Homo sapiens: one gene and its partner. The protein of the gene in region 1 purifies or fractionates together with the protein of each later gene. This does not show direct contact. Each region holds a gene or a part of one and is shown on either strand. Other genes may lie near its edges. The genes, in order: SULT4A1 and ANKRD13C.

What was found.
Region 2: the proteins of SULT4A1 (region 1) and ANKRD13C purify together in Homo sapiens (affinity purification with mass spectrometry, with the first as the bait; one large-scale study listed by BioGRID). This does not show direct contact.

Annotation. Positions count from the first base shown.
Region 1 is NC_000022.11:43,855,821-43,859,636, reverse strand, and holds part of SULT4A1 (sulfotransferase 4A1), read left to right. Parts: intron 1-3,816. UniProt on the Homo sapiens protein: Atypical sulfotransferase family member with very low affinity for 3'-phospho-5'-adenylyl sulfate (PAPS) and very low catalytic activity towards L-triiodothyronine, thyroxine, estrone, p-nitrophenol, 2-naphthylamine, and 2-beta-naphthol.
Region 2 is NC_000001.11:70,295,521-70,299,336, reverse strand, and holds part of ANKRD13C (ankyrin repeat domain-containing protein 13C), read left to right. Parts: intron 1-3,075; coding exon 3,076-3,207; intron 3,208-3,816. UniProt on the Homo sapiens protein: Acts as a molecular chaperone for G protein-coupled receptors, regulating their biogenesis and exit from the ER.

The DNA of each region.
Region 1 (3,816 bases):
TATTCATTCTTACAGCGTAGTTGGTCCTGGGACGGTGGTTGTATTAAATCCGATTGTGTCTGTGAAAATATTTTGTCCCTGTGTGTTGGTTTGATGCAATCACTGCCACTGGTTTTGTCAACAGGTTGATTTGAATTGGGTGCTCGTCCCCGAGGGGGCACAGCCCCAAAGTCATGGAGCTTGGGCTTTGAAATACGGTCCCTGGCTCAGCCAGAGCACCCACTGCCCTGAGTTTATTTTGCCCCTGGTTCCGGCCAGTCCTGAAGTGTGTGCGCATTCTCACTGATGCAGACGGAAGCTTCTGGGCCTGGGCGTGGGTGAGCCACCTGGTTTCTTTGAACCTCAGTTTGCTCATTAAAAATGAGAGGATTTGACCAGATTGATTCATTTAAGTCTTACATTTTCAGACAACTCAGGGGTTGAAGCTGAGGGGAGCTGAAGCTGAGGGGAGACTCATGGTGTGCAGGTCCCAGGCTAGATGGATGTCCTAGTTTTCTTGGTGTGTATGTCACTGTGCCTGGGAGAGACAGGTTTCAGAAGGGCTGGGCATGAGGTGATGGTGACCTTGTGGCACTTGCAGTGACATGGGGGAAGCCAGAATCCTAACACTGAAAAGTTAACTGACAAGCCAGGGTGGCTGTTCTCAGGGTCAGGTAAATGGCCTGGTAATGAGGGTTCTGAAGAGGAGGATCTCGGGAGACTGCATGGAGGAGGAGACAGGTTGGGTGGATTACCCATTACAGATGCTGTTTTGCCCTCCACCCACTTTGATTCTCAGGACGGCCCTGTGCTCTTGTGATTATTTCCTTTTTATAGATGTGAAAATGAGGGCCTAGGGAGGACAAAGGGCTGGGGTAGTGGCAGCACCGAGTGTAGATCCTGGAGAGAAACCACCCACAGGAGGGGGTAAGAGAGGCGTGGGGGTGGGAGCTAGCACCTGCCAGCGCTTCCTGGGTTACCAGTTTGTTCTGAGATGAGGGAGCATGCGGAGCCCTTTGAGCTTTACCACACAGGGTAACAAAGTGTTCCACAGCAGTGTGGTGAGTTACCTGCGTCCTATGAGGGAATGCAGAGGCCTGAAGAATGGAACGTGTGGTTTTGTACCAGAAGAACTGAGAAGTTCCTCTTTCCCCATCTTTCTCCTCTTGCTCCCTCATCCCTTCCCCTTTGTCTTCCGGCTGTTACACATACTCAGGAGGCTTGACCTGGGGAAGGGGCTGCCAAAGCAAGTGTCCTGGGTCTGCGGGGGTCACGTTTCTCCCCATCACTCAACCGGGCTGGGAGGCAAAAGCCTGCAGAATGACTTCTGGAGGAAGAAGGAGATGGGGCTGCTGGGAGCACAGCCTCCTGAGTAGTTGGCCCTGGTTGAACTTGTAGTTGGTTTGAACTCCTGGGCTTAAATAATCCTCCTGCCTTGGCCTCCCAAAGTCCTGGGATTATGGGTGTGAGCCACCATGGCTGGCCATAGTTTCTTTTGCCTTGGCCTCCCAAAGTACTGGGATTACAGGTGTGAGTCACAGTGCTTGGCCATAGTTTCTTTTCTTTCTTTCTTTTTTTTTCTTTCTTTCCTTTTTTTTTTTTTTTTTTGAGACAGGATCTTACTCTATTGCCCAGGCTGGAGTGCAGTGATGCAATCATGGCTCACTGCAGCCTCCACCTCCTGGGCTCAAGCAATCCTCCTGCCTCAGCCTCCCAAGTAGCTAGGACTGCAGGTGTGCGCCACCACACCTGGCTAATTTTTTGTATTTTTGTAGAGATAGGGTCTCACCATGTTGCCTAGGCTGGTCTTGGACTCATGGGCTCAAATGATCCTCTTACCTCGGCCTCCCAAAGTGCTGAGATTACAGGCGTGAGCTGCTATGCCAGGCCTTGGCTTGTTTAGCTTCTGCTGAAATGTTGGCTTGTTCTTTTTTCCACTGGGTAATGTGCCTGTTTTCCTCTGGCTGCCTTCAATGTTTTCTCTTTGTCTTTGATTTTCAGCACTTTGAATATGGTATGTCTAGGGTTTTTGTATGTGTGTGTTAATTATTCTACTTGGGATTCCTCTAAGCCTCTTGGATCTGTGGTTTGATGCTTTTCATTATTTTGGAAAAATTCTCAGCCATTATCTTAGAAAATGTTTCTTTTACCTCATTCTTTCTTCCTTTGAGATTCCAATTACATATATGTTAGATTGTTTGATGTTGTCCTCCAGCTCTTGGATGTTGTATTCTGTTTTCTGTTTTCTTCCCTCTTTTTTCTTTCCTTTTTTTTTTTTTTTTTTTTTGAGACAGGATCTCACTGTGCTGCTCAGACTGGCCTAGAATTCCTGGGCTTAAGCAGTCCTCTTTCCTCAGCCTCCTGAGTAGCTGGGTCTGCAGGCATACTGCTGCACCTGGCTTCTTTCTTTTTCTCTTTTTGTTCCAGTTTGGGTAATCTCTGTGGACCGATCTGTGGCTAACTGCTCCTTTCTTCTGCTGTGTCAAGTCTGCTGATGAGCTGTCAGAAGCATTCAATGTTTCTGTTATGTTTTTTTCCCTCTAGCATTTCCACTTAGAGTTTCCATTTCTCTGCTGAAATAATCCCATCTATTCATGTGTGTTGTCCATCTTTTCCTTGGGAACCTTTAACATGTTAATCAGACTTCTTAAAAATTCCATGAGTCTAATTCTGTTGATTGCTTTGTCTCTTGACAGTTTTGTTTGTGTGTGTGCGCGTGTGCCTTTTTTGTGAATAGTACCTTTTGACTGCTCAACACAGCATATTAGATAGTAGAGACTAAGGTCAGCCATATTTATGCTTGCAAATGAGGCCGGCTTTTCAACTGCTAGGCCATTAGTATAAGGAATTGAGTTAACCCCGCCTCGTTGGTCTGGTTTGGGTTCGGGTGTTGATCTGATTACCTTGAGTGACCACTGGTTTCATATTATTGTAGTGTTAGCTTGCGTTCAGTGGAGGGGCTGAGTTTCCAGAGGTTTTTTCTCAGTGTTCCTGCTCCACCTCCACCTTTTGGTCTTCCTCGTAGGTCTGAACCTTGGAGGAGTTTTGTCTGCACACTCTTGCCCCTGTGCCAGTGATCGACTCTGCTGTTATCTGTTACTTTGGTTTAGTAGCTTGGTAGGGAGGGTTTGGGGTTCTCTGTTGTGTTGTCTAGCTGCAGTCTTCTGCAGGCTCCATGTTGCTGGGTCTGGGTAGGGCTTTTTCATTGATCCTGCCCTCCTCTGAGTGGCAGCCAAACTGCCTGGATGGTAACTCTTGTGCAGGAGTTTCATGTCCCTTCTGTAGCACTGAGAATCTCTAGTAGTCAGGGCCCAGGGACAGTTTCCTGCCCCTCCCCCAAGGGCAGAGTCTTGGTTTTTCCTTTTGCCCATCTCCAGCCACATTGGGTCTTCACCAGTGCCCTGGGAGGTGACACGGTTTGCTGCCCCTCTCTCAGTGACTTAAAGCCTTTTTTCTGTAAGGGAGAAGGGTACAAGTAGGATGTTTTTCTTTTCCTACAGCCATGATACTGAGGAAGGCTCTCTCCAAAGCATGCTGCCCCCAACTCTTTCTCCTGAGCACCTGGCCTAGGTCTGGAGAAGAGCCTGTGTTTGGGTGTGAACTCTGCTCAGTGTGAGATTCTCTGGCTTCTCTGGCTTCAGAGGTTCTGTGCTGTCACATGGGCTCACCCTTGGCTTTTACCAGCATGGAAACATTTTACCTGAATTCCTCTCGCCACCTGCATGGGCTGGCTTCTCTTCCTCCAGGGCCCTGTCTCAAGTGAGCTGGTGCTTGCCTCCTGCCACTCTGTGGAAGGGCCCATCTTGGTTGAGTGAAACTAGGATCTTGTATTTTATC
Region 2 (3,816 bases), on another chromosome or scaffold:
CACGGCATGGTTCCTTTTGTCACCTGAGTTTTGCTCACCTTTCTAGCCTTTTTCTTACCTTACTATTTTAGATACCCTCATACTGCACTCTTGGCAGTTTGTCAGATGTGCCAGGCTATTTGGGCCTTTATTCCTTTGTTCATGTTCTTTCCACTTCCTGGAATGCTTTTCTTTTTGCACCCTCACACCTGTAGGGCATGCACTTGGTGTTACTTTCTCTCCCACCAAATGACTTTTGTTGTCCTTATGTTCCTATTAAATCTGGAACCATAAAGCTTCTAATGTTACATTTACTGACATGGCTTTTTTCCCTTCTATTGGTCTAAGCTCCTCAAGGGCGTGGGGTTCTTTTTGTTGTATTCCCTGTTATCTAATACAGCATCAGTACATTCTACGCTATAGGTTGGTAAACTCTTTCTGTGAAGGAAGAGATAATAAATATTTTTAGATATTAAAATATATTTGTGGGCCATATGGCCTCTGTCACAACTACTCAACTCTGCTGTTGTTAAAAGCAGCCACAGACAATATGTAAATAAATGAGTATATTCCATTATCATTTTATTCATAAAAACAGGCAGCTGATTATAGTTTGCTTACTCATATGTGAGCCTCTCAGATATTTATTAAATAATTTGACCTCTTACTTATGAAATGACAACAGGATAGCCAACTAGGCAATAAGTGAATTGGAAATAGGGTCTTGAAAGAGAAGCTAGAAGTTAAGGCTAGTAGTCCATAAGTATTTGTGGATGTCATAGTATTACCAAAGAACTGGTATTAAGGGTACCAGTTTTAAGGTATTAAGGTATGTATGTACTAGTATTAAGGTATGTATGTATACATACATATATGTATTATGTATTTTATAATGCCTACAATACAGGAAAGATAAATTTTGAGCAGTATTCCTTAGGGCAGAGAATACTTGTTGTTTATCCTAATATGTATGTATGTATAAGTAATAACTTCATTAAATGTTGAAGCAATGTAATTAATTAAAACAGCAGATCTTTTTCAGTGATGTGGTTAAGAGATAGTCTCTGATTTATATAAGAATTCTGTTCCAAAAGTTTATTGAAAATAGGATGTTTGAAATGTAAGGCAAATTTGCTCATAGACAATGGGTTATACAGTGTTCAGTTTCCAAGCTAATATATAAAATTCTACTTGATTCATAATATATTTGAAGTATAGTGTTTAACAGTTCTGTTTAACTACTGCAACCTAACTTTTTTTTAAAGAATATTGTGTTCAGAATTAATTTGGGTTACCAGGAATACATTTTCACCTATTATGGCTTTAGCAGTAACACCAAGATTTTGCATTCTTTACTTGTAGGGGTAGAGGAAATGGTACTGTCCCAGGCCCAAGCCATTGCTATTTTTTTGTTTGTTTGTTCTTTGTTTTTTTTTTTTTTTGAGATGGAGTCTCTCTCTGTCTCCAGGCTGGAGTGCAGTGGCGTGATTGATCTCAGCTCACCGCAACCTCCACCTCCCGGGTTCAAGTGATTCTCCTGCCTTAGCCTCCCGAGTAGCTGGGACTACAGGCGCGTGCCACCATGCCCGGCTAATTTTTTTTTTTTAGTAGAGACGGGGTTTCACCATGTTAGCCAGAATGGTTTCTGTCTTCTGACCTCGTGATCCACCTGCCTTGGCCTCCCAAAGTGCTGGGATTACAGGCATGAGCCACCTAGCCCGGTCGCCAATGGTATTGTTTTTGGAAATTCAGGAAGGGACTATATGGGCTGGGCACGGTGGCTCATGCCTGTAATCCCAGCGCTTTGGGAGGCCGAGGCGGGCGGATCACGAGGTCAGGAGATCGAGACCATCCTGGCTAACATGGTGAAACCCCGTCTCTACTAAAAATAAAAAAATTAGCCGGGCATGGGGGCGGGTGCCTGTAGTCCCAGCTACTCAGGAGGCTGAGGCAGGAGAATGGTGTGAACCCGGGAGGAGGAGCTTGCAGTGAGCTGAGATTGTGCCACTGCACTCCAGCCTGGGCGACAAAGCGGGACTCTGTCTCAAAAAAAAAAAAAAAAAAAAAAAATCAGAAAGGGACTCTATGTAGGTTAAAGTTAGATGGTGAAGAATAGAAAATGGGCCTCTTGGGAACCTAGAAATAAGGAGGTTTGGAGAATGAAGGCTCTAACTATTGTAAACCCTAGGGACTGTTATTATTCTCCAGACAACTCCCTAGGTTTTGCCTTTTTTCTTCCTTATAACGTCTTAAATATTAGTTAGGGTATCTTTCTTGGCCTATTATGGAATAGAATCTCATCTTATACCTGCTCACTTACTCTTCTGTACTTGATCATTTAGTCTTCTGTCCCTGAAGCAAGCACAAAACTTTCCTTTTTTCTCATATAAAAAATAATTATTGCTCAATTATTATATACCAGCACTAGGGAATATGTACAGGATAAAACCTGAAGCATGACTACTCATTAAGTTTAGAAATTACGGTTGATATTTATGGATTCCTTTCCATTTTATAAGGAATACAGAAAAGATCCTTTCTTGCTTCTTTTCCTTCCTTCCCTCTCTGCTGCTTCCCTTCTTCTATCCCTCCCTTCAGTTCTTCCTTTCTTCCACTTACAATTTATTGGGAAAGAAAGGCTCAAATGACAGTGGTGGATCTTTGCATTAAGAAGAACTAAAGTAAGATTAATCTGTATTGAAAGAAAAATATCCTTTATCTGGGTTTTTTTCTCAGATCTGTCAAGTTAATTCTTAAAGTTGTTTTTAAAAATTGCTCTATGGACTATACAGTTTTATAATGGGTAATCTAGTACTGCTTCCATTACATATCTATAACAGGATAATAGTACCGTATTTCATGTGTCCTGCTTTTATAGATTCATAATTAGTCATAATGCTAACTTAGAGAAGATATTAATATGTACAATTTAAACATCTAATTCTTTTTAGAGTAAGTAACACTTCACATTATTTAGAAACTATCCTTTTTGTCTTTAAAAATTGGTACCATTATAATTGTTGATATTTTCATATGTAGTACTAAGAACTTTTGAAAAACCTAGATTTTTATATTTAACTTTTGCTCACATCCCAGGAATCAGAGATGGAAACAGAAGAAGAGGTGGATATTTTAATGAGCAGTGATATTTACTCTGCAACTTTATCAACAAAATCAATTTCTTTCACGCGTGCCCAGACAGGATGGCTTTTTCGGGAAGATAAAACAGTATGTGCAAATCTAGATTTTTAAACTTTAAGCATTGTTCGGTATTTAATATTTCCAAAATAACGTGATGGAAATGCAAGAAGTAGCTTACAGAATTGTCTCCAAGTAGTTTTTTTCTCTCTTCCTTGAATCCAGATAAGGAATTATAATGGATGGTTAGAGTCAGAATGTGTCCTTGGAGAATTCAGGAAAGAAAGCTGAGCTCATTTGAATTCTGTGTCAGGAAGGACTCTTATTGCTAGCTGTCTTGTTATTATACAGGGAACAATGTTTTCACATGATTCCATTATATTTCTAGTGCTTTATTCGATAAGAAGACTACAAAAAGGGATAAACTTGACTCTATTTCCCTGAACCTGTTTGTCTCCCTACTTTAGACTTCTCATTTACTTAATATTTTTTTCTTGTATTCTATACATATGAGTAAGATTAAATAACCTTACATTTCTGCAACACTGTAGAATTGTTAAATCAAATCTCGGGGGAAGTTTCCCCATTAGTGTAAATTATTTCCATAATTCCCATTGTATCTGTCAGCAAGAGGTTATATAAGACTATTCAAATATATATTCGGAAAATTTTGAGGCTAGGCGTGGTGGCTTATGCATG